Linked DNA regions of Homo sapiens: all the other regions are linked to region 1. Evidence: fine-mapped expression QTL. A gene starts in region 1. Each other region holds a variant in brackets. All regions are shown on one strand. Distances are between the middles of the regions.

Region 1 (2,765 bases):
GAGATTTCTACTCTGCTCAACAATTGATAATTGTAAAATACTTGGCTATGCCTCATGCTGCTCCAACATATTATCAGCTCTATCCTGGTTAGAAAAATAAAAATCTAACGGCGGCGGCAGCCGCCTGACAATGGGCTCAAGGCACATCGGAGACTTTGCCTTCTTCACTGCGGGTGGGGCTGGGGACGGTGGGTTTGGCGGGGGAGGGGAGGAGCCGGGCTGGGGCCTGGGAAGGCAGAGAGTGAGTTCCACCAGCAAGATCTGATTGTGGCCCGGGAGAGAATTCAATCACTCGGTTTACTCCAGAACGAAATGAACAGGGAATTGGGTTAAGCAGCCCAAAGTCTACCAGAGTTAGAATACTCGAACGCCTTTAGGGGACAAGCAGGTTAAAAAAAGGAGGGGGGTGGGGAGAAAGGCTTTAGGAAAGGGTAGGTTCTATGGGGGACAAGGAGGGGAAAGCTGGACTGAAGGTTTTCAAATTTACATTTCTGAAAAGCAGTGTTCCTAAGTGCTGGCTAAAGCAAACACTGGTGTAAGGCGTAGGGGGGCACGCACACGCGGACCTTTAAGTTTGCAATCCCTTTCAGCTAACGTGATCCACTGCATATGCAAAACCTGTCATCGGTTCATTCCCGTTCATCACTCATTCACACTATGTCCATTCATGCATCCGCTCCACACTGCCCGGGCTCGCCGCACAGCTGCGCGAGGCGAAGGCAGAGATCAGAGCTTTTTCTTTTTCGCCCCGCCCCAGCCCCCGGACCGGCCCAGGAGATGGCACAGCCCGGGCGTCTGCAGGTGCGTGGCACCGGCGGGACAGCAGGCCCCGGCCAGCTGAGTCGTGCACTGCCTCGCACCAGCAGTCAGGGCCAGGGGCAGCTGCACGGGCACGCCTCGCCGAGCTTCCTCACCAACTGCATTCTTCCCGAAGCCCGCTTGCCGGAGCTGCTGATCCCGCTGTGCACGCTGATGCAAAGCGCCTAGGGGACTCAAGGCAGGGAGCGGGAATCCGACTGCCACACGCAGGGATGCAAACCCACCCGCGTGCGTGCTCCCGCCTGAACCTCACTCCCGGCGCCCGCTCGCGGGGACTTACTGAGTGCGGCAGCTTGGCGGGACCAGGCCCAAAGTTGACCACCTGCCTGGGGGCGTCCATGGTGCGGCGGCCAGGGCGGTGAGTCAGCCAAGGAGGACCGAACGCGTGAACGGCTGGCGTTCCTGGCCGCTGCGGTGAGAGTCTGCAGCCGGCCCCGAACCCCCGCCTTGTTCCTGCGCCGAGTCGGCGCCCCATTGGCCCGTGCTGTCGCAGGCCCTGCGCTAATTGGTTCGCGCGAAGGAGCTCACATCCCCATTGGTCGCGCTTCTGAGCCGAGTCGAAGCAGTTGCTCCTCCTCGCGTTTACTGTTTCAACCCCCATTTTTGATCAATGCAAGGAGCGCGCGAGATTGCGCCAGCCAGCCGAGCCGGCTCGGCTGCGCGCCCGCCCGAGGATTGTGGGCGGCGGGAAGAGGCTGCCCCTGCCAACCTGCCTTCGCCCCTTGAGCCCGCAATCTGGCCGGTTCCAGTCCTCCAACCCCAGAGGACCTCAGCTCCTCTCTCTTGGCTGAAAGGGCAGTTGCCGAGCAGATTTGTAGCCCCCATCCACCCACCTCTCCACCACCAGCCCCCAGTTTGGGCTGTGATGTATTTGTTCCAGAACCACCAGTCACTAATCTACCAAACTTTTCTAAGCACCCCCCACGGGCGTCAGATACCCCAGTGGAGAGAGAGGACCCCCCCAAGGTTGGAAGCGCAGGATGAAGAAGGGCCGGGGGTGGGTGGATACGGTTCTTTGTATTTGCACGTGGGTCCTGAGTTCCTGCAGGATTAAAGAACGGAGGTGGCCAAGGACGCAGGGAGGAGCGATAGCCTGGGAAGCGTGGATGCCCGCCAGGCAAGTCCTTTAAAGTCGCTGATTCTCCATTTCCTCCTTTGGGAAACGAGTGAGCTGGAAACCTGCGACAGCTCTCAGGTTGCGCCCGCGCTGACAAGCTGTGAGTTTAGAAACGTGAGGAGATATTAACAAGAACGCGATACCCATAGGGCGCTGCAGCCCAAACCAGAAGAAGGTGGCCCCTAGCCAGGCCAGGCGCAGGGCCAGAGCTGCTCAAACTTTTCCACAGAAGTGTCCTTCTCAAAAGAACTCCAGTGGAGACCCGCATGGGGTTCTGAAACAGAATACCCTCCCCCTACCCTGCAAGAAAGAAGTTCCTTTGAAGTCTGGAATTTCATCATTTTTAAACTGTGAATTTTGCATTCTCTACCATAATTTAACCTAGTTTCTTTTAATGTAAAAATATTTTCCCTGTCTGAGTAAAATTGATGCGCCAGGAATATATACAGTCCAACTGCCCCGTTTAGAGAAGGCTTGTAACTGGACAGGACTTTGGCTTTTGTTTGCTTTTCCTAATGAGAATGTGGGCGGTATGGGGCTGAGAGCAGAGGCACTGCTCTGGATCTGGGAATTGGAGGACAAAGTTTCCAGAAAAAGGCAAAATGAACAAGGCCCCTGCGTTCCTCAGCAACTTCATTAAGAAAACCGCGACATTCAAGACAGAATAAATCTCAGCCCAGAAACTCAGGCATGCAAGAAGCATCACATATCCATTATTTTACGTAAATAACTCAGTTATTATATATTAGTAGCTGCCCCTAGCAGCTTATCTACTGGAGACTAAGGGAGTCAGCCTTCATCCTTCCTGGAGTTAGTTCCTAACACCAGG
Region 2 (2,765 bases), 55 kb before region 1:
TGTATACAACACCAAAAGCACAGGCAACAAAAACAAAATAGATAAATGTGATTACATAAACTTTAACATTTCTGCCCATCAAAATAAACAGCAAAAAGGCAGTACAAAATGGTAAGAAATATTTGCAGACCATATAATATGGTAAATAACTGAATTAATATCCAGATTATTTAAACTATAACTGAGCAACAACAACAAAAATAACCTGGCTGGGTGTGGTGGTTCACGCCTGTAATCTCAACACTTTGGGAGGCCGAGGCAGGTGGATCACCTGAGGTCAGGAGTTCGAGACTAGCCTGGCCAACATGGTGAAACCCCATCTCTACTGAAAATAGAAAACTTAGGTGGGCATGTGGTGGCACATGCCTGTAATCCCAGCTACTCGGGAGGCTGAGGCAGGAGAATTGCTTGAACCTGGGAGGTGGAGGTTGCAGTGAGCTAAGATCATGCCACTGCACTCCAGCCTGAGCAACAAGAATGAAACTCTGTCTCAAAAATAAAAATTAAAAAAAAAAAACAATTTAACAATGAACAAACAACTTACATAGATATTTTTCCAAATAAAATATACAAATGAACAGCAAGCATATGAAAAAATGCTAAATATCCCTAACAATCCAGGAAATGCAAAGGTAAACCACAATGAGATATAACTTTACACCAATTAGTAAAACCACTACAAAAAAAAAAAAAGAAACAGAAAACAACAGGTGTTGGAGAGGATGCACAAAAACTGGAACCCTTGTGAACTATTAGTGGGAATGTAAAATGGTGCAATTGATATAGAAAACAGTATGAACATTCCTAGGAAAATTAAAAATAGAATTACTATATGATCCAAAAATCCCACTTCTGGAATATATCCAAAACAGTTAAAAACAGGGTTTTGAAGAGACATGGTACACCCATGTTCACAGCAGCATTATTCATAATAGCCAAGATGTGGAAGCAACCCAAATATTATTGATGGATGAATGGATAAACAAAATGGGGTCTATACATACAATGGAATATTATTTTGCCTTTAAAAGGAAGAAAATTCTATCACATGCAACAACATGGATGAATCTTGAGGACATTTTGCTAAGTGAAATAAGCAGATCATAAAAAAACAAATACTGCATATGAAGTACCTAACACAGTCAAACTCTTAGAAACAGGAAGTAAGGTGGTGGTTGTCAGGGGTTGGGAGGGAAGGAAGAAGGATGGTGGTTGTTCAATGG[G/A]CGTAGAGTTTCAGTTTAGCAAGATGAAAAAGTTCTAGAGATCTGTAGTACAGCACTGTGTGTATAGTTAACCCTACCATTCTAGACACTTAAAAATAGTTACGATGGTAAAGTTTGTTATGTGTTTTTTACCACAATAAAAAAACTGACATTAAAAAAGAGCACAAGGCAAAGGTGAGAAATGAATTCATATTGTGGAGTCTCTGAATTTGGAGACTTAAAGAAAAAGGAATCTGTTTTTCTGGGTTGCTTAAAACACAGTACCACCAGGTGTAGTAGGGAGTGAACAGAGGGCATCTCAAGGTCCCTTCTGGACTTAGGATTTAATGCCCATTTATTGAGAACCTCTTGGTGCGTTTGCTCAGTACTATATCAAGATGGAGTTGTTCCATGTGCCCTAAAAGCTTATGATCTAAAAAGGCCAGAGAAACGGCAGAGACATAAAAAATGCCAGAACAATGCAACAACCTTAATCAGACTGTCTTTGCTTTTCTTTGCTTCTAAGTCCCTGGCTTTAAATTTAATATTGTGTCATGTCTCTATTTTTCTTGAGTTTTCTTAAAAGATCATATAAAGATTTTCTTCCATGCTAAGGCTTTTATATTGTATTTTTCTTAAAATGGAGTGTGGTACATTTACCCTTCATCCAAGGATTGCTTATAACTCACCTTGCTTTATTAAGAATGCTGCTAGAGGCTTCTATGCCCCTAGTAATAAAAATGTATTTTCGGGCCCATTCAAACCAATGAACTTCTGAGTTTTCAGAGCACAAGATAATGAAAATTCTCTAGATCGGTGTCTTTTAGTACTTTTAATCTCTTAACAGATCCTGAGTGTCTCAGATGAAAGGGACTCTAGCGTGAATCGCTATCATTAATAGCATTCCATCCAGGTAATGCTTGATTATTCCAATTTCTCACAAATTTGGACACTTTTACTGTCTCTATAACATCTCTAGGGGGTGAGAAAGAAAAGGGACCAGTGCAATTTATTTCTCAAAATATACACAGAAATATAATTGCACATACATACAGGAAAGCATTATAAATAATGGATGAGTAGCAAGGGAATGCCAATAATAGAACTACTCATGTAGCAAGACAACACTCATCACTAAATGTCCCCTCACCAAAATGGATTGAGAATTCTTAGGGGCCACCAAGCCAGAGATGGAGATTTATAGAAATCTGGGATGTTTGAAAAGTGAGAGGTTGTGTAACCTCCTTGAATAAGATAGCAGTTATCTTCCAAAATTGCAAAAATGGTTCCAACTAGTCTCCTCCTTATATCCTCCCCCTTAGCAATGTGACTTTACAGCTTCTCCCATCAAGAGGTGGAGTCTGTTTCCCCATCCTGTGAATCTGGGTTGACTCTGACTTGCTTTGGCCAATAGAATGCAACAGAAATGGCCAGGTGCAGTGGCTTACACCTGTAGTCCCAGCATTTTGGGAGGCTGAGGCGGGCAGCTGGCTTGAGCCCAAGAGGTCAAGACCAGCCTGGGCAGCATGACAAAACCCCATATCTAGAAAAAATACAACAACA
Region 3 (2,765 bases), 730 kb after region 1:
CACGCCTGGCTAATTTTTGAATTTTTAGTAGAGACGGGGTTTTGCCATGTTGGCCAGGCTGGTCTTGAACTCCTGACCTCAGGTGATCCATCCACCTCGGCCTCCCAAAGTGCTGGGATTACAGGCGTGAGCCACCACACCCAGCCGGAATATCTTTACCCTGGAAAACTGCCCCACAAGCATTTTTTTTAAAACTTGTGGAAGAAAATGGTGACTAGTTAGAATTAACTGTAATTATTTGTAGCTCTCATCTTATTTTGCCTGCTATACTGCATACTGAGAATGAATTCAGGATTCAAATTCACTCCAGGATGATAGTTAAAGTTAGTTCTTTATTGGAAGTTCACAGCAGAGGAGACTGATAAGGGTTAGAATTTACCTAAAGAGGTTATGGCTGTAGAGTATCTTATATTGATATGTCATTAAAAAACCTTGGAACATGAATCATGTTAGTGAAAATTTGCATTTTTGTGAACATGGAAATTGAAAATTGGAGTAGGTCAATAATCTTGCTTCCTAAAGACTAGGTAAAATGTAAATATATGGGAGCAATACATTTTATATTAAGTGTACCTCTGGATTTGCATAACAGATTTAGATATATAATGTATTTCTACTTGCTGATTTGTTTGGCAGGATCATCTCTAAATAATAAATATGCAGTATGTTTGAGAACAGATACTGGGCCCAGGCACATGACTTGTGTTATCAGTTAGTACACATGAAGGTTATTCCAAGGGCAGTATTTTTGGGAAAATAGAGCTTTGGGGCCCTGGGTATATGGCAAATACAAATAATTATTATTATTTTTAATTAGCGTAGCATTTGAGACTATTGAAGTTCACTCTCCTGAGATTCAAATTTTGGCCACAGTTGAAAAGCAGAGAGATATACTGGTCAGTTAGTTTATAAATTAACAATTCCAGGACCCAAAGTGAGTTATGTTCTGGGATCATAAAAGACATTTCATAAAAGGGTGAGGGTAGATTAAAACTTCCAAATATTACTTAAAACTCTAGGACTTAGAGTTGTATTGTCATTCCTGTTGGTGGTTGTACAAACTTATAATATTTAGTGGACATATTGAAGCCTTTCAAACTCTTCTAGCTGGATTTATTTATTTGTTCTTTAAAGATTAATTTGAATATTCTCTTGTCCTGTTGATGGGAGACAACACTGGCATATCCACTCTGAAGGGCAGTTTGGTGTTGTGTATGAACATTTCAAAAGCACAGGCAATTCCATGACTTAAGATCTACCTTTAAGAAGCACTCCTGGTTGGGTGCAGTGGCTCACGCCTATAATCCCTGCACTTTGGGAGGCTGAGGCGGGCAGATCACTTGAGGCCAGGGGTTTGAGACCAGCTTGACCAACATGGCGAGACCCTGTTTCTACTAAAAATACAAAAATTAGCCAGGCATGGTGGCACACGCCTGTAATCCCAGCTACTCAGGAGGCTGAGGCTCAAGAATTGCCTGAACCTGGGAGGCAGAGGTTGCAGTGAGCCAAGACTGCACCACCACACTCCAGTCTGGGTGACAGAGTGAGACCCTGTCTCAGAAAAAAAAAAAAAAAAAAAAAAAAA[G/AG]AAGCACTCCCACTTGTGGACAAGGATTTATGCTTAACTGGGTTTCTCAACCTCAACCTCAGCACCGGTGATATTTGGGGCCAGCCAGTTCTTTGCTTTGAGAGACTGTCCTGTGCATTGCCAGATGTTTAACAGCAACCCTGGCCTCCACTCAGTGCCAGTTACCCCTCTAAGTTGTGGCCAGAGTGTTTCTTTGCCAGATAGCATCCCATTGAGAACAACTGATGTATAGTAGTGTCCACTGTGGCACTTTTTTTCTTCTGATTTCAGATGAACTGTAAGAAGCCTAAATGCCCATTATTTGGAGCAGACTCATTCAATAGAAATACAATGTTAGCCACATCAGTAATTTCATATTTTCTAATCGTTGCATTTAAAAAGTAAAAAGTGCTGGGCACGGTGGCTCACGCCTCTAATCCCAGCACTTTGAGAGGCCAAGGCAGAAGGATCACTCGAGGCAGGGAGTTTGAGACCAGCCTGGCCAACATAGTGAAATCCCATCTCTACTAAGAATGCAAAAATTAGGCAGGCATGGCGGCGCATGCCTGTAATCCCAGCTACTTGGGAGGCTGAGGCACAAGAATCACTTGAACCCAGGAGGCAGAGGTTGCAGTGAGCCGAGATTGTGCCACTGCACTCCAGACTGGGCAACAGAGTGAGACTCTGTCTCAAAAATAAAGTTTAAAAAAAGGTAAAAAGAAACAGGTGAAATTGATTTAAATATATTTTATTTGACCCAATATATGAAACATATTATTGCTTCAACATGTAATCAATATAAAACATTATTAATAAGGCATTTTACATTATTTTCCCCCTAGTATTAAGTTTTCAAAATCTGGTCTGTATTTTACACTCTGGCACATCTCAATTCATACCAGTCTCATTCAAATACTCAGTAACCACGTTTAGCTGGTGGCTACTATACTGGACAGCAGAGATTTACAGGAATGGCATTTTAAAAGAAATACTTTGATTCAGAAGAAATACTTTCAAGTACTACATGTATACAAATGCCATATAGTAGTTGAAAGTAATAAAACAGAGAACTACAACATGGAAAGCACTCAGAGGCATACTGTTAAGTGAAAACAGCAGCAGAACAATATGCACAGTAGGAAACATGTTAAAATTATTTTGAAAAATGAAATGTATTTGTATTTTCATAGATGTGTATATT

Which allele goes with the higher level. Alleles are on the strand shown, and positions count from the first base shown. SD is a standard deviation of normalised expression in the study named. Not every link is listed here.
In carriers of allele G in region 3, the expression in rectum of the gene that starts at base 1,245 in region 1 tends to be higher than with AG alone (large effect, 1.8 SD a copy in CEDAR).

Evidence for each region. PIP is the estimated chance that this variant, and not a neighbour inherited with it, causes the effect.
Region 2: its variant is fine-mapped to the expression of PSAT1 in T cells (TOPMed, PIP above 0.99). The same link has a PIP of 0.9 or more in CD4 T cells, blood mononuclear cells, memory regulatory T cells, naive CD4 T cells, naive CD8 T cells and whole blood.
Region 3: its variant is fine-mapped to the expression of PSAT1 in rectum (CEDAR, PIP 0.95).

What each region holds. Positions count from the first base shown.
Region 1 is chr9:78,295,605-78,298,369 of GRCh38, reverse strand. It overlaps PSAT1 (phosphoserine aminotransferase 1), which reads right to left and starts at 1,245. Exons shown (of 9, transcript NM_058179.4): 1 at 1,100-1,245. The coding sequence starts at 1,159. RefSeq lists a silencer at 640-879 and enhancers at 832-1,415, 1,416-1,999, 1,890-2,159.
Region 2 is chr9:78,350,459-78,353,223 of GRCh38, reverse strand. No RefSeq gene overlaps it. Among named protein-coding and RNA genes, the nearest start is that of PSAT1, 55 kb to the right of the region's middle. RefSeq lists an enhancer at 2,452-2,765. The variant G/A (reference allele first, on the strand shown) is at 1,224.
Region 3 is chr9:77,564,966-77,567,730 of GRCh38, reverse strand. All of the region lies in intron 1 of GNA14 (G protein subunit alpha 14), which reads left to right. Among named protein-coding and RNA genes, the nearest start is that of GNA14, 82 kb to the left of the region's middle. The variant G/AG (reference allele first, on the strand shown) is at 1,586.